3 linked regions of the Homo sapiens genome follow. The protein of the gene in region 3 interacts with the protein of the main gene of each other region in a pairwise test. Each region holds a gene or a part of one and is shown on either strand. Other genes may lie near its edges.

Region 1 (7,000 bases), on a different chromosome or scaffold from region 3:
TCCTTAAATGCTGGAACATGGAAAACTGGCTACATTATGTATCTTGCCTCCTCACATTTTTATCTGAGGCCTGACCTTATGTCCCCTTCGTTTCCTATGAAAAGGCCCTTCGAACAGGCAGTTCTCCAATTGAACTTTAAAACAATCCAGTTAATATAGTTTCATTACTCTAGCTTCTCTTACTTTGACCAAATCCATTCTTTATTTCACTTCTCAGAGAAGTGAAGAAATGCTTTTTTATGTTTCTTTTCTTAATCTAATAAATCATTCTTGGTAATGCTTCATTTTCCCATTTAGGCCTACCTGTATGTACATTGTATTTTATCTGATTGTGCAAATAAGTCTTTTTAATGTAACTCTTATGAAAGTCTCCCTTGTTAATCAAATTCATCTTTTCTTTCACAAAAGTTCCATGCTTCAGTATTGTCCACAGCTACCTGAAGGAATTAGTAATGTGTCATTTAAGTGTCCTTCAGTATTTCTAAATACCCTTATAATAATGAAGGTAAAATTAAATTTAAATAAATGATCAATTAGATTAACTTTGTAAGCATCTGACTTAATTGGATGAGAACATTTCCAAAATATTTAATATGTAATTTTAAAATTCCTGAAGGACTTATGAAATTGCTTGTTCTTAAAACATTTAAAGAACTTTACCTTGGCTGGGCGCGGTGGCTCACGCCTGTAATCCCAGCACTTTGGGAGGCCGAGGTGGGTGGATCACGAGGTCAAGAGTTCAAGACCAGCCTGGCCAAGATAGTGAAAACCCATCTCTACTAAAAATACAAAAATTAGCCAGGCTCGGTGGCAGGCGCCTGTAATCTCAGCTACTCGGGAGGCTGAGGCAGGAGAATCGCTTGAACCCGGGAGGCGGAGGTTGCAGTGAACCAATATCGTGCCACTGCACTCCAGCCTGGGCAACAGAGCAAGACTCTATCTCAAAAAAAAAAAAAAAAATCCTTTTACCTTACAGTGCATTTTATAGCATTGTCATCTTCAAAGTCAAAATGGACATATAAACTCAAATGCCAAAAAAGGTTGTAAAAATTCAATAAAAAATACAATATCTAGAACATTTAAATTATAGCAATTCTTATTAGTGAAGGTCTTAATAATCATAAAAGTTTTATGACCAGTGGACAAATGATAAATGTCTCCCTATTTTCACCTAGCCTTTAAGAAAGCCTTGGTGGTGGTGACAGCTGTCATATGGTCAACTGATGTAAGGAGTGTACCTGCTTTTACAGTTACATAAATTTGAACAAATTCATGTCGCCCCCCCCAAAAAATGCAAAAGACATTGTGCTCTAAAGATATTTAACATCCCTATACAGTTAATCATTTCTGTTTAAATTACAATGCAATAGATTTTACCGCTTCACCAATCCAGTTGGTAGGATTTTGTGGTCTTCAAATGTTTGATGTGATCTGTCTTCTCTGCATCTTGCTTTACTTGTGTATGTTGTAACCATGATTGAACCTATCCCTCTAACTTAATGTTGGTTTCTACCCTGTCTCAGTGTTGTCAGTCCTGTTGGCATTTTAGAAATTCTCATTAATTTTGAAAATATTTTTTGTATTGGAGGTATTTTATATACTTCCCCAAATGACAACTTTAATTCATGACTGAAATCTAATTAAGCCTAGTATACTTCCTGCAGTATCAACCCCACTGTATTTACAAAGAGAATGAGGAGGTGACAAGACACTTTTTATTTCTTGCTGCCCTTCCAGTCAGCCCTTGGATCACTGCGCATTTCCATCTGGAAGGTTGCTTCTCCTCAGTGATTTCGCATTACAGGAGGGTTTTCCTTCTTTGTTTCTCAGACCTGGTCCTGTAGACGGGAAGGAGCCTGGACACAGTGACACATTCTCAAAGGCCCTGCAGGACCACCATGGCTTATGATGACTCCGTGAAGAAAGAAGGTATGACCCCATAATCTGAGAAGCATTCCAAAGGGGGTATCCTCTTCAATCCTTGCAGCCCATGGATATAGAGACCAGGACTGGGCACCACAGCCTGGACTCCCAAGTGATGGTCCAGAGCACTGTTATGACACTCAGCCTCCACGCCATCCCCAGACTGGGCCCATGGAAACGAAAACCAGGACAGGGGTTCCAACACGAGAGTCTGAAATATGAGTCTCTTAGTTTATTGGGGTGATCCCCTGCAGCACTCTTGGTCCTTGCCAGCTCCAGTGTGCAGGAGTCTGGGGATAGGAATCACATCCTGGACTCCCACAGAGAGCAGCACAGCACATGAATCCTTATTCTTTTCAGCCTTTCGTCTGCAAGTCTGTGTCCTCCTACCAAATCACAACTCAGAAACCATATCTGAGGTTGCACATGGGGCCTTTGCATAGCATGGAAACATTGTTTCTTCAGGTTTGATTCTTGTATTTGCAGCTAGGTCATCAAGAAATATTCTGTTCCCCTGGGTCTAGCCCTGTATTTCAGTGGACTTGATTGAAACATTGTTTTAATTTGGAAATAGAGGAACTGTTGCATTACCTGCATGACGATTTGGTCATTACTTACTTGACTTTCTCATTTCCTTTCCCAAATAAACCTGTGCTTCTCAGATTGTTTTGATGGTGATCATACCTTTGAGGACATAGGACTTGCAGCTGGCCGAAGCCAACGAGAGAAAAAACGTTCTTACAAAGATTTTTTAAGGGAAGAGGAAGAAATTGCTGCTCAGGTCAGGAATTCTTCCAAGAAGAAGTTGAAGGTAAGTCCTGAAAATTTAAATTAGGAAAGTCTTAAACTACTCATTTTTTTTTGGTGATGCAGAGTTTTTTTTTGTTTTTTTTTTTTTTCTCTCATGGCCCAGGCTTGAATGCAATGGCACAATCTCTGCTCACTGCAACCTTCGACTCCCAGGTTCAAGCGTTTCTCTTGCCTCAGCCTCCCGAGTAGCTGGAATTACAGGCGCGGGCCACCACGCCTGGCCAATTTTTGTATTTTATCAGAGACAGGGTTTCACCATGTTGGCCAGGCAGGTCTCAAACTCCTGACCTCAAATGATTCACCTGCCTCCGCCTCCCAAAGTGCTGGGATTACAGGCCTGGGCCACTGCGCCAGGAAAGTCTTAAACTACTTCTTACCATATTTCCTAATATTTGAAGAAGGAAGTATTTTTTAATAACTTGAGAAAAGAAAAATAAAACGTTATGCACATCTATTTTTATTATTTCTTGTGCTTTGTTTCCCAAAATCAAAAATCATCAAAGACAAGAGTGGTTACAAACTGCATTTGCCTCATCATCTTATTATTGGTCAATTCTTCTTTAATTATAGGATAGTGAACTTTACTTCTTGGGGACGGACACACACAAGAAGAAGAGGAAGCACTCCTCTGATGATTACTACTATGGAGGTGAGGATGGGAATGGGCAACAGGTGGGATAAACACATCGCTGGTTCTTGGAGTCGGGGTAGGGGAAAGGGATCCAGATGTTGCTGACTCAGTGGCCTATTTAACAGGACAGTGGTTCTTGTTCTGAGTGCCGATAAACCAGTGTGAAGGAGGAGAGAGGTGGAGGGCTGGTATTTTGGAGGATTCAGCATAGAAGAACAGTCTGCATTTGTGATACACCAGGTACCAGGTTCCTTCTCCCCCCAATCATCCACTTATCTTGTGCCCATTGTTATCTAGCATCCCTTTTGCCATACGTAGTCCTCTGGCCTGCACCTGTGGGTCACTTCTCAACCAGTATATATCCACTCACAGAACCAGTTTTCTTAGCTATGTTATGCACATAGCTGATGAGACTCAACTTTCACCAGAATGGGTTTGTCCTGAACACAGAAACAAATGATACTCTGTCTGCAATCTGAATTGTTAACTTCCCATAATCCCACAGCTATAGTCAGTTCTTCTGGGTATGTGCTCTTTGGTTGCTTCTGAAGACTCAATGAAGAGAAACAACTTTAGTGGCAAGAACTGTGTCCAGGGTCAGAGGCAGACTCTACCAAGCCAAGAAGCACAAGGGCATCATTTCTCAATGTTAGGAATCAGTTAAAGGGTCTCCCTTCAAATCATTCCTGTTAGCCTCTTTCTCATGTTAGCTAGGTGCTTTTGATGAGAGAGGAAACTTGTTAGAAGTTGCTTCCCATCATATTGACAGTACTTCTCTTGATTATTTCTAGATATTTCGTCTTTGGAATCGTCACAGAAGAAAAAGAAAAAGTCCAGCCCACAGTCTACTGATACAGCTATGGACCTGTTGAAAGCTATCACTTCCCCACTGGCAGCAGGCTCCAAGCCCTCCAAAAAGACTGGGGAGAAATCCTCTGGCTCTTCAAGCCATTCGGAGAGTAAAAAGGAGCACCACAGGAAGAAAGTCAGTGGAAGCAGTGGGGAACTACCCCTAGAGGATGGTGGCTCCCACAAATCGAAAAAAATGAAACCTCTCTATGTGAACACAGAGACACTGACCCTTCGGGAGCCTGATGGTTTAAAAATGAAACTTATTCTGTCACCAAAGGAGAAGGGAAGCAGCTCTGTTGATGAGGAGTCTTTTCAATATCCCTCCCAACAAGCGACTGTGAAAAAATCCTCAAAGAAATCAGCTCGGGATGAGCAGGGTGCTTTACTCCTAGGACATGAGTTACAGAGCTTTCTGAAAACAGCCCGGAAAAAGCACAAGTCATCCTCAGACGCACATTCATCTCCTGGCCCTGAAGGCTGTGGGTCTGACGCCTCCCAGTTCGCAGAGTCCCACAGTGCTAACCTTGATCTTTCAGGGCTTGAACCTATTCTGGTAGAATCAGACTCATCCTCTGGTGGGGAACTAGAGGCTGGGGAGTTAGTGATAGATGATTCTTACCGAGAAATCAAGAAGAAAAAGAAGTCAAAGAAGAGCAAAAAGAAGAAAGACAAGGAGAAGCATAAAGAGAAGCGACACTCCAAGTCCAAGAGAAGTTTAGGACTTTCTGCCGTGCCAGTGGGAGAGGTCACAGTGACATCTGGCCCTCCTCCCAGCATCCCATACGCTGGAGCAGCAGCACCTCCCCTGCCACTTCCTGGCCTCCACACAGATGGGCATAGTGAAAAAAAAAAGAAAAAAGAAGAGAAGGACAAAGAGAGAGAGAGAGGAGAAAAGGTAAAGCATCTTTTAAGTGTGGTGGGGGTAAGAGATTAAGCAGGTTCTTCCTGGGTAGTCAGTGGACTTTTAAGTTAAGCAGTTGAGGTAAACCACTGGGAATTAAGCATGTTTGGGGGATATGTTGGAATGATATAAAGTATAAAATATTACCAGTAGCCCAGTCTGTCTGATATAGAAGCAATCTTTTTTTTTTTTTTTGAGATGGAGTCTCGCTCTGTCGCCCAGGCTGGAGTGCAGTGGTGCAGTCTGGGCTCACTGCAACCTCCTCCTCCCAGGTTCAAGCCTCACCCTCCCAAGTAGCTGAAATTACAGGCACCCGCCACCACACCCGACTAATTTTTTTTTTTTTTTTTTGTATTTTTAATAGAGACGAGGTTTCACCATGTTGGCCAGGCTGGTCTCAAACTCCTGACCTCAAGTGATCCACCCACCTCAGCCTCCCAAAGTGCTAGGATTACAGGCATGAGCCACCATGCCCGGCCTAGGGTTTCTTAATAGAGTTATTCTCCCATTGTGCCAGGAATAGGTTTAGTTACACTGTGGCTTTTTCCAGCTAGTTCTTAGAATTCACAGAAGGAGCTAAACCCAATTTCTTTCACTTAGCATCACTGTCTGCTTAGGGCAGTTGGGAGATGTCAAAAGGTGTTCTTTGAGTTCATTTTTAAAAACAGACTATCAAAATTGGTAGAACAATGAGCAGTCAAGTTAACAGAATAGCTAATGACTTTCCACCAGCTGGTGTTGGCTACTTTCTGGTATTCTTTTTAGTGTCGAATATATGTTCTTTTACTGTCTGAGTGCTTGCTGTATGCCAAGCTCAATGCTGTAGATAGTACCAGGAAGTAAAAACACAAGCAGGACATAGTTGTTGACTTTAGGGAGCTCACTGTTGATTAGGGAGATAGGAATGATAAATCAGTCACCTTGGTTTGATTTCTTTCCTCATAACAGTTTCTGGCAGTGAACTTTAGGGTCTCATAACTATGTCATTAAAAGTTTCTTTTTTTATTTATAGTTCTGCAAAATGCAATGTCAGATAAAATCTGGAAGAAAAGCGACTAAGAACGAGAAAATCAAATGTATTAAGAATCTGGGGCTGGGTGTGGTGGCTCATGCCTGTAATCCCAGCACTTTGGGAGGCTGAGGCAGGTGGATCCCTTGAGCCCAAGAGTTCGGGACCGGCCTGGGCAACATAGCGAAACCCAGTCTCTACAAAAAAATACAAAAATTTGCCTGGTGTGGGGGTGCACATCTATAGTCCCAGCTACTCAGGAGATTGAGGTGAGAGGATTGCTTAAGCCCAAGAGGTGGAGGCTACAGTGAGCTATAATCTTGCCACTGCAACTTCAGCCTGGACAGCAGAGTGAGGCTCCCTGTCTCAAAAGAAAAAAGAAAAGAATCTAGGAATGGGAATTTAGTTTGATCTCTGAGGTGGAAGTTATTTCTCCACTATAAAGGGTGCCTTTTAAGAAAGTCTGCTTATATCTATCTGTTTATATCTATCTGTAGATCTATATCTGTTTATCAGTATGTGTGTGTGTATATATAATATATATAAAATAATATATTATATATATATACACACACACATCTGTTTATCTCAAAAAAACCACAAAGCTGTACCTCTGAGCCAGGAATCAGTGTGAACATAAAGACCTGGATATTCCAATACTAAGTCAGGTTTTATTCAGTTGTTTATTTGGAAAATTGCTTTATGAAATAAACACTATGTGTTCTTTATAAGATTCTGTTTATCCTAAGAATTTCCAGTCTAGTGACGTGATAATGCCATGGACTAATCATCCAGTGCTGAATGTCGGAGCACAGGGTCAGGGAAAGCTTGAAGAAGGAGAAGGTTTCAGTGGAAGTGGACGCATGGAGGCAGA
Region 2 (6,503 bases), on a different chromosome or scaffold from region 3:
AAATGTGGAATTGTCCCTTTGTAGCCAACTATAACATTGTTCTTTATGAATATTACCTTTGATACATATGATCCACAATATAAAAACCAAAAACTACTGTGTGCAAATTATACCTTGGACCATATAGGCATTGATTAACTTCTTTAAGTACATGTGATAACTATGGAAATCAAGATTATGTGACTGAAAAACATAAAGGAAGAGACCCATCTAGATAACAGCAATCAACCTGCTTAATTCTGAATGACAATTATATCCACAAATTTTTAAAACTTCTACATGTATTTTTCACATGAAGATCTCCTTAACAGGTTGCCAACCTTTTCTTTTATAAAACTATTACATTTAAAATATGGACGTCTGAAAAATAAAATATTCATCATTTTTATGATTTTTATCATGTTACTATTCTACATGTTAAATATAATAGAAGGTAAACTGACCTCAGGTTTAAAGGGGAAAGAATACCACTCAGTCTTGCTATAGAAAAAGCCCGTAAGTTAAGGATAACAATTCTTAATATCTTTTATTGTAAAAGCCATCAGACTTTCAAATGAATTTTAAAATCTTTCAATATTATTTAATGAAAAAGTCTCACACTGTCATGTATAGGATATATCAACATTTACTACTCATCTGTCATGTTAGGAAAAACATCATTATTACACGCTTGGAAAATCCTCAAACCCATCTCTAGTGGATGTCCGTCATAATTTAAAGGGTATTTTCCCCATTCAAATAAAACAATCTCTTGTAAAGCTACAATAGTTATATACCAAAGCAATACCTAGTTACATGCTTTACACAGTCCCGTGAAAAAATAATTTAATTGCTCCTAATCCCTGATGCAAGGCACTTCAAAGCACCCGCACAAAACGTCCATGTAAACAGCAGTACAGTACATCATTTAAATAACATAAATGACTTTTACACAGCTTGACCTAGGAAAAAATAAAATCCATCATAGCCACAGCTAAAAAGCATGTTAAGATTCACAATAAGAATTTGTTTCTCTTATTATAAAGAGAAGAGCAATCATATAACCTCCTGGGGGTGGGGGAGACCTCATAAATATTTTATATTGATTGACAAAACAGCATGCTCCCTGGGTACGTATGAAATCAGAATATTCAGGAGTAACTGAGAGGATGCAAATAACATTTCTTAGTACCCAGCTTTAATATCTACCAGACCTGGTAGTCTGGATTATTTGTAGCACCATGGAAAACTCATTAGAAAATCACAAAGGTATACACCTCAACCTTTCCATGAGGTTCATTTAATTTATAGTAACAAACAGCAATGATGCAGATAAAGAATCTTTAAAATTATTGGCTTACTGGATTTACCTAGCAAGAAAAATTCTATATTACTTATTTTAGTACATCTCATGTACATAAAGCACCAGTTTAAATGAGAGTATCAAATATCTCCAGCATCTTTTTGCTTAGCCTAGAAGTTCATTTCTTATCACTTTCCATGGCACACTCTTAAAGCCAAGGAAGATAAAACTAGAATGGTTATAAATATGAATGGAGAAATTCAGTTCCTTCCCTATCATATTTACATGTCTCAAGTAAAACACAGATGAGTGGCAAAAGGTCTACTGCATTCTCTGGAACCTGCCACCCCAGAGTAGTTAATTGGCTACTAGAGGATTAACACACAGGGCTGAGCAGGTCAAAGCCAGGGCTCTGTCAGGTAAGGGCCAGTTTTTACTACTGAGCAACTCACAAACACCACTGGTAAAGCAAAGAGGTCTGAGTGTGCATATAGCTCAGGGAACCCTGAGTTTACCCTTAGTTACCACTAAAAACTAACAAATGAGACTCCACTGAGGCTTAACTTCATATACAAAAATCAACACCTTTGCCTCTTTGACAGTGGTAATTATTAGCATGCCCTTCTTAGGTATAAAAGGGATAATGGTATATCTAGGTTTATGCAGTTAAGAATCAACTATAAATATTCAGACTTGTATTTTAAAATTACAGATTAAAAGTGACTCCCAAAAGAAAATCAATTTCTTCATAAATGAAATATAGTATATAAAAAGCTGGAATGATAATTAATTCAAATACAAAAGCTAGTATACAAAAACCCTACTTTTTCTTCCAAACTACTTAGGTTCATACGGTTCACACTACCACACAACTGTTCTACATTACAATTACACCACTAGAGTAAAATACTAATAAAACACTTCAGTTAGCAAACTGAGGTTCTACTTGTTGACAACTGCATTAAAACTGCAGCATTTAAGCAGAGCTGAGAAGCACCATTCTTAAGCATGGCTTTCTTCTTCCTGTTCTTGTGTTCCACAGTGATTACTAAAGGAAGGAATTTGGTCTGTAAATGACTGGGTCATCCACTGCCCATTAGGAATGCCACTGAAAGCTGATTCTCCTCTTAACTCCACGCTCTCAACTGCCAGAAAAGAAAAACAAAGTTAGTTTATGCCATTTAGAAATATTTGCTTTTTTTAAAGTAGAGACTGGGTCTTACTCTATCGCCCAGGCTGGAATGCAGTGGCATGATCACAGCTCTTTGCAGCCTCAAACTCCTGGGCTTGAGTGATCCTCCCATCCTAGCCTCTCAAAGCACTGGGATTACAGGTGTGAGCCACCGTATCAGCTTATTTGAAGTTTTTTTTTTTCTTTTTGAGACGGTGTCTCATTCTGTCACCCAGGCTGGAGTCCAGTGGTGTGATTTCGGCTCACTACAGCCTCTGCCTCCCGGGATCGAGGAGAGGCATATATATTATATATAATGATACTCCTGCCTCAGCCTCCCAAGTAGCTAGGATTATACCTGCCACCATGCTAATTTTTGTATATTTTAGTAGAGATGGGGTTTCACCATGTTGGCCAGGCTGGTCTCGAACTCCTGACCTCAAATGATCCACCCACCTCAGCCTCTCAAACTGCTGGGATTACAGGCGTGAACCACCATGCCCGGCCTGGAAGTTTTAAATGATCAAAGTAGGAGATTTTAACAGTCTAGTGAAGGAGAATTATTATTAAAATAGTTAAGCAAGCTTCCGGAATACAACTGTTAAGTTTCTGTTCTTCAGATACAGGACTCATTTGTTATTAAAGGAGGAAAATGCAACTAGGATGGCCTAGAGTTCATGACTTAAAGAAAATGCACTGTAGGCCGGGTGCGGTGGCTCATGCCTGTAATCCCAGCACTTTTGGAGGCCAAGGTGGGCAGATCACGAGGTCAGGAGATCGAGACCAACCTGGCTAACACGGTGAAACCCTGTCTCTATTAAAAATACAAAAAAAATTAGCCAGGCATCGTGGCGGATGCCTGTAGTCCCAGCTACTCGGGAGGCTGAGGCAGGAGAATGGTGTGAACCCAGGAGGGGGAGCTTGCAGTGAGCCAAGATCGAGCCACTGCACTCTAGCCTGGGTGACACAGCGAGAATCTGTCTCAAAAACAAACAAACAAAAAAGAAAATGTACTGTAAAAGTCTGTGTAATTCAACGTGAAATAACCATCAATTTTTCACTATTAGTCACTAAATAAAATTTCATATTATCATTCCCATTCTTCAATAATTTACTCTCCTTCTATTAAAATTTTCCCCCCAATCCTGACCAAACCGTCTTTGAAAGGAATACACATGTGGAGGGAACCATACTTAGCCCATTTGAAGAGAAGCCACAAGGTTCACTGCTGCATGGATTTTCTCCGTAAGCACCACCATATGCTGCCTCATAACCTGGATCATATTTTTCTTCCTTAACAGCCATCTTCTTTGCATCCTCTGTGAGGAAGGTAAAAAGGATTTAAATCTGATTTTGTACAACAATTTTAAAAGTAGCTTTATTCAGAAATCATGAACAATTCTTTTTCTTGAATATTCATATACACTGAGATACATCTCTATTAATCTTTTAAACTTATAGCATGTACTAAATAAACACATAAGAACTGTAAAAACCGCTTACATTCAACTTTACGTAGGGTACAATATTTCTTACATCCCTCTGCTCTGGCACTCTGCAGGTGAATTATCTGCAGAAGTGCCAGAGTAGAGGGAAGACCTTGGTAAAAGGAGATTTTAACAGTGACTAATATTCATTATCAGAGCACTCTGGCTGCGAATATAATTGTTTTCTTTTTTCCTGCTTTTAAATCCATAAGATACTTTCTGTAATGTGTGTGTGTGTGTGTGTGTGTGTGTGTGTGTGTGTGTGTGTATGTGTCTATATATAGACACACACATATGTATACGCACACAAGTGTATACACACATATATGTATATAGACATACATACTTATGTGTATATATGTATATATACACATGTATATATACACGTGTGCATATATGTGCACACATATGTATATGTGTATATGTATATATGTATATGTGTATATATATGTAAGTATATATGTGTATATATACACACACAAAATGAATAAAAGGAATGAGGACAGTAACATACCTTGGGCAAGCTGTAGGTCAAATGTATATTGCACCTCTTGAACGTCCATATTTCGTTCAATGCCTTTCAACTGATCTCTTAAGTCCTTCAGTTTTATGTAGTAATGAACTTTGTCTTGGGCTCGAGGAAACTGAGCACATCTTGCACTGGATGATGGCATAACATAGCAGAGCTAGAATCACAACATTTTATAATTTCAGAAATCTTATAATTCTATTGAATTCACTCATTGAGATTAGAATATTTGTCTTTATTTGGGTTAATAACTTGATACTTAACTACATATAAATATATGTAAAAATCAATAAAAGTAGTTGCTTTTAAGGTTGAATTTGTAATACTGACTTATTACCAAGTCAGGAAGTGAAAAATAATGAGCCTCCGCCTAATGAGCTGCCTCCTGGGTTCAAGCGATTCTTCTGCCTCAGCCTCCTACGTAGCTGGGATTACAGCGCATGCCACCATGCCTGGCTAATTTTTGTATTTTTTAGTGGAGATGGGGTTTCACCATGTTGGCCAGGCTGGTCTCGAACTCCTAACCTCAGGTGATCCGCCTGCCTCGGCCTCCCAAAGTGCTGGGATTATAGGCATGAGCCACCACGCCCGGCCTCCAAATGGCATGTAACAGAGAATGACACAGTACTCTACAGGAATTTCTCTACAATTCACTACAGGTAGTGAATTTGTACCATTTTAACCAAGCAGACAAAGGTGGGCCTTTATTTAAGCAAAAACCAATGCTATAATAAAACTCATCAATTGCATATTTATAAGAAATTATGAACAAAAACAATTTTAAAGGAGAAATTTAAATATATTTAGGTGGCAGAAACATTTTTAGGTTTCCACAAAAACCTGGCAGCAAATTAGCTTCTCCATCAGTTAAGATGTTGTATATACAACATGTAAATCTGTGCACTGTGTTGTTCTTTAAAAGTTGTAAATAAAACCTAAAACTAAGAAGCAAAATTGGAACCAAATGCCTGCAGAAGCTCTGTAGAGAGGACAATTTGAAAAACACTGTTATTTCATGATGACTTTGTGTATAAGACAACAGTATTGAATGCCAGTTAGGTTGGCTGGAGGCTTGTCTGGGTTGTATTATTTATATGGCTCTAAAATGAAGTTGAGCTAAGATATATAAATGGGGCAACTGGTTTTCCTAATCAGGATCATGTCTGTGTTTCCATGTTTGTTTCACAACAGTACGAGGGCTAAACCATTTGAATTTGACAACTACATGCCATTAAATGTATTCTGAATGTAGTATATGAGCCAGTTCCTCTCAATATTTTCACTGAATAACAACATCAAGACATTTAGCTGACAAATGTTTTTCTTTCTAATAAACCCTAATAGTATTTGAATTAATTTACAACTATTAGTTAAAGCTGATGTATAGGTATTATTCAACAAAATACAGTGTAATTGTTTTGCATGGTATAAATCACAATGGATAGGACAAATAAGGAAATTATCTAGAAAAAAATTCACATTTAGCTGATTTACAAATTCAATTTTAGGGACTTACAGTTTCTGTGTCTGGAATCTTATGGGGCTGAAGCCCAAATTCCAAGTTCTTAACCTTTACTCCAAAAACTTCTTTACTAAAAATTTCATAAATACCTAAAATGAAATACAAACATATTTACATTGCCCATAATGTTAGCAAAGAAAAAAAAAATTTAAAAGTAAATCTTACATTTTCCATTAAACACTGCTATTCGTGGCTGATATTTCTGTAATTTCTGTACTAGAATACGTCCTCCTTCACGAAATTCTTTACTAAAATTGAATTAAAAAGTAGTCAAAAATATAAATATGACAATATTTATAATATGCTAAATTCAGACAGCTTTCAATGAAAGAGCATATTGTACATTTGTTGAGCTCAGCTTGAACTAGATACATATGATGTTCCTAGAATATTTGGGGCACCAGCATACTCAAGGTTCCAACCCATAAAAGCAAATGCTGTGTACTTACCTGGAGAGATCTTTGCTGCCGGGCGTGGTCCTTTCCACCATGTTGGTAAATCCAATACCATAC
Region 3 (8,386 bases):
AGACTTGTGTGTGTGTGTGTGTGTGTGTGTGTGTGTGTGTGCGCGCCAAAGTAAGGAAGGGAGAGGAATGTGTAAGTAAGCTATTTTTCTTATCCTCTCATATAGGGGTAACTTCCTGCATAATAGGATTATGAGAATGAACTTTCTATGTAACAGAAAGTCAACGGTCAATATTTTATATAAAACTGATACATATATCAGAAACACACACACACATATATATATATATATATATATCAGAAAGCCATATATTAGTGAAAAGTGAAAATTAGAACAGGAATCCTAATTCTTCAAGGAAAAAATTCTATTTCCAAGAAATAAGCAATATGCATTCATCAAGTAGTGCAATTAAGCTAGGACATTGTGAGAACTGGTTTAACTCTTCTGTTAAAAAAATTAATAACAAATTTTTAAATAAGTTGTAGAAGAACATTACAGTCCAAATATGAAGTAAAACAAATTCTAGTACCATTTTAAGTAAAATCTGAACATGATTTATAGTGAAGAAAAGAGAATTTTTCCTTGCAGTGGTACAGTTTTCATGTCACAAAATTTTATTTCCTTGTTTACGAGTCTAATTGCACAACGTGGTTTCCCAATAATCATAGTAAAAAATAATAACTAGCCCTTATTTAACATTTACCATATGTCCTCTTGTAAGTTCTTAATATATATCCTATTCTACAAAATACAGTTCATTTATTAGGCAGCTTGGTCCTTTCATTGTGAGCTGAGGTGACACGCCTCAAATCCCACACTGGTTGGTGAGCCCAGGCAATCTGGCTCCAGAATCCTTGCTCTTAAACACTTGGCTACCCTGCTTCTCATAAAGCTCTCTGTTAATTTACGATGTTTAGAATCAGTCTATTTACCTTAAACAAGAAGGCACTGTAACAATTAGAAAATAGAATATAAATTATATAAAACTTGATAATGTAAAAGTCATAATAAACCAAAGTGAGACAGGAAGAAATTGTAATATTTTTCTTATCCTCTCTTATAGGAGTAACTTCCTAGAAAGTCAACAGTCAATTTTTAATACAAAACTGAAAATAATTCCTGCTTGGATAGTAAAGAAAAATATTTATCAAAAAAACTGAAAATAATAGTAAAAAAAAATCAGCAGGGAAGACAGAGAGTGAACTTGAGCTAAATTCCTCATATTTCATAACAAGTGTGATGGTTAATTTTATGAGCATCCAGTAGGTGTCAATATCTATTGCCTAATTTTAACTTTTAAAATTATATATAACTTATATGGTAACTATTAGAAAAATTAAAAACAAAAGTTTGTGGTACCTTAAGAAATAGCAACATAAGCAAACTATTAACGGCATAGGGAGGACTATCAGAAAAGCTAAATAACTAGGGAAAGGGAAGATCTTTGTTTCACACCATTTCCATTTTTATTACAATTATCAGATATTATTTTAAAAAATAATTCTACAATACTATGAAAAATAGTAATACTCTGTAAAGAAAGGATAAACTGAAGAGGGTATCTTTCAATTCTGTCATGGTAAAATAACAGACCAATAAATGCTACCAGACCATAAGCCCAGTGAGGTAGAGAAGGAGAACAAGGATAATATATAAACACATTCCACTCTAATCTTCTTTACTGATTCTTTGTTTCTACATCATTACAGGCTAAATGGCCCATTTTTTTTTTCATATAAACTTCTAAAGAGACATTCATTTCATTGACTTCAACTATTGAGTCACACCCACTCCAGTCTACAACCTTGCACATTTCCTTTAAAGAAAGGAGCTGTCTCAATTCAGACACTGTTGGCGGGAGCCGACATTAGATAATCACCCTTTTAGGGCATAATTTAGCAGTCTTTAATGAAGTGTTAAAAAAAATGACTGCATTTTGACCTAATAATTTCACTTCTTTGAATCCACTCTGCAGAAACACTCCCGAATGTTCAAAGATATCTGTAAAAGGAATTTCAATTAAGCCACTACTGTTTACGACAGAGGAAAACTGAAAAGAACCTAAATGCACATTGGTAGATGCAGAATAATTTGTTGCCATTTAAAATATACATCTACATGTAAAATACATATCTACGTGTAGTGACAGTGAAAGATGTCCCTAACATATTGTTAGGCAAGAAAAGCAAAAATTCAGAATTACTATACAATTTTTGTAAAAAAAAAAAGTATATGCATATATCACATACATAAATGTGTACAAGCAGTGTGCTTAAGATGTGTGGAGGAAACACTGTAAGTTTTCACTATGTACATTTCTTTATTATTATTTTACAACCAGCATGTATTGTTTTAGTATTTTAAGAAATCAGGTCATGTCTCAATTGTCATATATCTGGGATTAAAAAAGAAAAAAAAATCCAAAAAGGGAAATATTCAACGTTTTTCCATTAGTTCATTCTCAATATCTATGAAAAAAATCTAAGTAGCACATTGCTGTCTAGGATTAGCGAAAACGCTAGTTTCGTTGGTTGGATCGTTTTGGGTTTTTTTTAGTGAATTAGAGCAGGAAAATGAGGACACAAAACCCAACCAAGGCGGAGTTGGGCTGTTGAAGCCATCAGCGGCGCGCGGCCGGGCAGCCAAGGGACCCGCGAAGGGGGGGACTCGGAGGTCGAGGGGCACTCGGAGGGCGAAGGGAGCCCCGGGCGGGAGACGAAGGGCACTGGCCCGTGACGCAGGCGCGGTTGGAAAGAAGCTGAGGACTGGATGTGCGGAAACCAGGTCAGAGGGGCAGGCAACAGAGTGGGCGGGAAGGCGGCCGGGAGCGCTATACGGGTCTAGGGAATCAGTAGGAAGCCGGAGGCGCGGCTGGCGGCGACAGCGTGGCCGGCAGAGCAGGGTCAGCCCAGGTCGCCCGGGGAGTGCGCAGGGACGCGGGCAAAAAGCCCGGGACGCGCGCCGCCGGGGCCTGCGGGGCCTGCCCGAGGCCGAGGCCCCGGTTGGGGGTGCGGGCCGGAGCTCCCGCTCTGCGCCGGGGGCAGGCGTCTGCTGGCAATACCTTCCCAGGAGAGCTCTCCTCCCGGCTCCCGCTTCAGGAACTTGTACCAGAACGTGTCCACGCGGCCCGGCTCCGCCCCGTCCTGCGCCGCCTCCTCGGCCGCCAGCTCCACCTCCCCGAGCCACAGGCCCGGCTCCTGCAGGGCCAGGGCCCCGTCGCCCGCCGCGGTGCCGGCCGGCCTCAGGCGGACGGCACCGCGCGGCTCCCAACGCCCCAGCTCGGGCCGCGACCCCACCACCAGCAGCTCCGGCCGGGCGCCGGCCACGGCGGGTGGCACCACCACCCCAAAGCGGAAGCGCATGGCGGGCGGCGGCGGCGCGAATACCCGGGCCCGGAGTCCCCGCGGCCGGCAGGCGCGGCCCGAGCACTAGGCGGCCGCAGCGATTGGGCGGTGGTGTGGGAGCCCCGGGCACCGGGGAGAACACGTGCTGTTCTGCGCCTTCTTTGGGATGCATCACGCGGCTCCCGAGCCCAGACTTCGTCCAGGCCGGCGGGAAGGGGTCAGCGGAGCCGCTAGCTGCCTCTTTGTGCCCCGCAACCCCGCGGGCGGTTGATTTCCACCTGTGGGCGCTGGGGACACGCGACCGGAAGAAATGGAAGAGAAAACGGGGTTCGGGGAGGGAGGAAAACTTCTAAGCCAGGCGATCGTCCAGTTCTCTCTCCAAGAGACTGGAAATTAACTTTATGAGGATCATAAGGAAGGGAATGACCTCTAGACAGCCGCCTTCTAATTGTGAAACGGGGGAAGATCTTGGACCTGGTCTCTGGAGCGCTCCCTATCTTAACCAAGTCACTTACTCTAGCAGGTCTCAGGTTCTTTGTCTGTAAAATGAGGGTGTAAAATAATGATCTTTCTAGACCCTACGAGCTCTGAAGGATCTCTGATTGGTGGAGATCACCCAAGACCCGGAGCTGATGCAAAACATTACCTACCATTCCCTTGTCTGAAAAGCCACATCAACTTTCTTTTTTCAAAAACTATATTTTTAGTATGTGTAAAGTAAGTTTGGAGTAAATACTTTCAAGTCCTTTTCAAGGTCAAAACAAAAACTAATTCTGTGACTACAAATGTATGCTTTTTTTTTTTTTTTTGAGACAGAGTCTCGCTCTGTCCAAATGTATGCATTTTTAATGGAGTAAATTAAAAAAAAAAACCTTTGTTTAAAATTTACTTTCAGCAAAAGTCAGCATTATTTTTTCAACTTAAAACCTTTTTGGGTTTTAAGTTGAAACAGGTTTTTTAGCTGTCTGGCCCAAATCCAAAATACGTATATCTTGGTGGGGAACTTCAATTTGTCTCTGCCATAAGACAAACGAATGTCCTGATACTTTTTGATTCTTTAACAAAATTATCCTTGTATTCTTAGGTTTATATATTCACTAACATTTAACATAACACAAATCTGTTACGTGAATTAAAGACACACAAAGGCATTTTTACCAGTGTTTGGAAGTTTGTGAATAGTAAAGGGGAACAGGCCAAAATTTCATGCGTTGAGGATATAAGTAAAACAGAAAGTGCAAAAATGTAAACTACACAAACTCAATCTCTTGTGGAACAATTAGAAAACTAATAATACATTTTACTCTTGAATGTTGATATTCCACTCGAAGTTTGGTTGGTTGCTAAGCTTAAGGATAAACACTATGAAAAATGTGAAGACAGAAGGGCTGGCCAAACACAGCTGATTCGGCAGCAAATCACACATTAAATCACAGTGGCATGTGAGTCGGTTTATTCAAATTGCTGTTAAAAGATATTCTTAGAGTAAGTTTAGGAAAATAAGAGTCATTTGGCGATGCAGAGAGGATTTTGTCTACAGTGGAATCCAGACTCCGGTGAAAGTTCTCATTCCTTCAGGACCTGGGAGCTAACAGCTCCGGACTTTCTTGTGCTCCACTGTGCTGCCTATGTTGTGTGCTTCCCAAATGGCATTATTCCCACCAGCTCTTCCAGAGTGAGTTCTGCCCATTCTGTAGAAGAAACAGTAGCGGAAAAATTAAACAATATCTTTGCTCAACGGACATTGTTTCCTTTACTCTTCTTTCATCATAAAGAGGTTGAAATAATTTTAACCATTGGAAGAAGTAACCCTCTTAAGCCCCTAAACAAAATTTGTAATAGCTTATTTTATGGCAAGGATTTAAATAAGGTATAAATTGGATAGCTGCACTGTGTAGTAAGTAAAATGCAACTGGAAAGGAGAACAAGACCAAAATAGGGCTTAAGGGACATATATCAAGGCCTTGATCATATTTTGACGGTCAGTCATTTGGATGTATAAGTATTAACCATGATAATATCCATTGAGCCTATATTATGGGCCAGGCACATGGTTTTCGTACTCATATTATCTTATTTAAGTCTCTCACCAATCCTATAAGGTAACTACAATTGTTACCCCCATTTTTAGATGTGAGGATACTTCAGCACAAAAGGGTCCAATGAACAGCCCACAGCAAGGAAGGGGCAGAGCCAGGGGCTAAAAGGGGTGCATTCAGCTTATAGATATAGATACAGATATAAATTCTGATAAGGAAAATCTGTTTCAGAATGCATATAAATTCTAGCATATTTAAATGTTATTCTCTGTCAGCTCTTAATTTAAAAAAAATAAATTCCTATCATTATTTCTTGTAACTAACTTCATCCTTAGGAATTAAAGAACAGATGAATCATGAGTGGCAGTCTAAACGGATCAATGACTCTGTAAAGACACATATATCTTAGCATTTGGAGAGGATTTGGCTGCAGGTTCTTGGAAATTATAATTTGTATGCCTTTTTATACCTATGTGTTGGCAATAGAAACAGATTTAAGAAGCCAAGGTGAAGAATTTTACCAGTTTTTAAATTGTGTTAGTTTTAGATCTTTTTCCTTGTTGGGTCCTCCATATGAGATTTCTTTTTACATTTCGAAGAATCATGGTATTTATTAAAAGGGATTATTTATGAAATCCATTTGAGGTCAGATTCTTGATGCTATGGGGACAAGCTAAATTTAGAGCAAGAATCAGTCCAGTAGAGTAACATAATTATGATAATAATTTTTAAAAGACCAAAACAATTTGTTGTCATTGAATTTCATTTTTATAATGCTATCTTATATATAACTATAAACTTTCCTGAGGAATGGGTGATAAATTCAAACATAGAGTTTCAAGATCCAATTCAAATGTAAATTCTTTTGAAGCCCCCTCAGGGAAAGCTATTAGTTTGATCTTGGGAGATTTATGCTTTCTGAAGCAATCTTTCACTAGTCAGTGAGTTATCATAAATCTTTCCTTGTAGTATTTTATATGTGTATACACATTCACTGATGTAAACCATATTTTATCCACATAGTTCAGGGACTGTTATAAGTATTAGTTTATTACTCAACAAAACATATCTAAAAGTTAAATGTGTCACATATACTATGCAATTTTGTAGCAATAAAAAAAAATCCCTTTCAGACAGAGTTTGAATACAGCTTAAAAACTTTTGCATGTTACAGCTAACTTTTTTCTGGATTGAAAAAGTATGGCTTAGGCTACCTCATAAGTTGGGGTTCCCATGGGTTAGAAACCCCTTTGGAAATCTAGAACAATAGAAGGATATAAACTAAACTAAGGCTTTGCCCCAAAATCCCACTACATTCCTCAACTGTTGTAAAAATTCATGTCTTTTTTTGATACATATAAAAATCTCGTCTCCAGTCGATTCCAATAATTCCAGTTCCCATCCATACCACCGTAGAGAAGTTTTGCATCTTCAGTGCATCACCACCGGCCTGTTTTGTCATTCTTCTTTCTTTACAATTTACATTATTAAAATATTAATTTTTAGGAATGCTCCAAGCATGAAATTACAATGAAACGTATGCCCTTTCAGAAGACATTGACCTGCCCTTTCCGTCACACACCTCCATCATTGTAAAATCTACACCTCCTCCCCTTCACTTCTCCTTTGAAAACCTCTACTCAACAGGGTCATTCAAGCCTGGGTTTTCCTAGGCAATGACCTAAAATGACTTTGCCTGGGGAAAGTAGAGTGCCAAGCCAGGTGGCTGGACCTCAAGATTAGAGACACTGGTTTAGAGCTTCCTTCAGCTGTAAAAAGATCCTCCTAGGTCTGAGTAACTTGAATGGCAGGCTGGTTAATACCCTTCCCAAACAGAGTGGAGAGCATGATAACTCAACCCTTAGGAATAAAAGAATGGTGGCTGGAAGGGAAGATTTGAAACTCCCAAAGGAACTTTCAAAGACTTTGAGAAAAAGGAAAGAGGCTAGCTGAAAGCAGAGCTTACTCATTTACACTTAAATAGAGAATGGAGACTGTTGGCAGGGCAAACCTGATAAGTACTTTTTAAAAAAAATTATTCTACTTTAAGTTCTGGGATACATGTGCAGAACTTGCAGGTTTGTTACATAGGTATACACCTGCCATAGTGGTTTGCTGCACCCATCAACCCATCATCTACATTACATATTTCTCCTAATGCTATCCCTCCTCTAGCCCCCACCCCCCGATAGGCCCTGGTGTGTGATGTTCCTCCTTGTGTCCATGTGTTCTCATTGTTCAGCTCCCACTTATGAGTGAGAACATGTAGTGTTTGGTTTTCTGTTCCTGTGTTAGTTTGCTGAGAATGATGGTTTCCAGCTTCATCCATATCTCTGCAAAGGACATGAGCTCATCCTTTTTTACGGCTGCATAGTATTCCATGGTGTATACGTGTCACATTTTCTTTATCCATTCTATCACTGATGGGCATTTGGGTTGGTTCCAAGTCTTTGCTGCCGTGAATGGTGCTGCAATAAACATACGTGTGTATGTGTCTTTATAGTAGAATGATGTAAAATCCTGTGGGTATATACCCAGTAATGGGATTGCTGGGTCAGAGGGTGTTTCTGGTTCTAGATCCTTAAGGAATCACCACACTGTCTTCCATAATAGTTGAACTAATTTACATTCCCACCAACAGTGTAAAAACATTCCTATTTCTTCACATCATCTCCAGCATCTGTTGTTTCCTGACTTTTTCATGATCGCCATTCTAACTGGCATGAGATGGCATCTCATTGTGGTTTTGATTTGCATTTCTCTAATGACCAGTGATGACAAGCTTTCTTCATATGTTTGTTGGCAGCATAAATGTCTTCTTTTGAGAAGTGTCTGTTCATATCCTTCACCCACTTTTTGATGGGGTTGTTTGGTTTTTTCTTGTAAATTTGTTTAAGTTCCTCATAGATTCTGGATATTAGCCCTTTGTCAGATGGATAGATTGCAAAAACTTTCTCTCATTCTATAGGTTGCCTGTTTACTATGACGATAGTTTCTTTTGCTGTGCAGAAGCTGTTTAGTTTAAATACATCCCATTTCTCAATTTTGGCTTTCATTGCCATT

Evidence for each region.
Region 1: the proteins of EPM2A (region 3) and HMGXB4 interact in a two-hybrid assay, tested with the Homo sapiens proteins (one study listed by BioGRID).
Region 2: the proteins of EPM2A (region 3) and TDG interact in a two-hybrid assay, tested with the Homo sapiens proteins (one study listed by BioGRID).

The regions. Positions count from the first base shown.
Region 1 is NC_000022.11:35,260,493-35,267,492, forward strand, and holds part of HMGXB4 (HMG domain-containing protein 4), read left to right. Parts: exon of another isoform or gene 1-1,033; intron 1,034-1,830; 5' UTR 1,831-1,898; coding exon 1,899-1,929; intron 1,930-2,585; coding exon 2,586-2,734; intron 2,735-3,303; coding exon 3,304-3,382; intron 3,383-3,489; exon of another isoform or gene 3,490-3,604; intron 3,605-4,155; coding exon 4,156-5,111; intron 5,112-7,000. UniProt on the Homo sapiens protein: Negatively regulates Wnt/beta-catenin signaling during development.
Region 2 is NC_000012.12:103,982,872-103,989,374, reverse strand, and holds the end of TDG (G/T mismatch-specific thymine DNA glycosylase), read right to left. Parts: coding exon 6,441-6,503; intron 6,240-6,440; coding exon 6,157-6,239; intron 6,081-6,156; coding exon 5,986-6,080; intron 4,627-5,985; coding exon 4,455-4,626; intron 3,773-4,454; coding exon 3,647-3,772; intron 2,428-3,646; coding exon 2,285-2,427; 3' UTR 501-2,284; downstream 1-500. UniProt on the Homo sapiens protein: DNA glycosylase that plays a key role in active DNA demethylation: specifically recognizes and binds 5-formylcytosine (5fC) and 5-carboxylcytosine (5caC) in the context of CpG sites and mediates their excision through base-excision repair (BER) to install an unmethylated cytosine.
Region 3 is NC_000006.12:145,732,197-145,740,582, forward strand, and holds the start of EPM2A (laforin), read right to left. Parts: upstream 3,325-8,386; 5' UTR 3,303-3,324; coding exon 3,002-3,302; intron 2,725-3,001; exon of another isoform or gene 2,673-2,724; intron 1-2,672. UniProt on the Homo sapiens protein: Plays an important role in preventing glycogen hyperphosphorylation and the formation of insoluble aggregates, via its activity as glycogen phosphatase, and by promoting the ubiquitination of proteins involved in glycogen metabolism via its interaction with the E3 ubiquitin ligase NHLRC1/malin.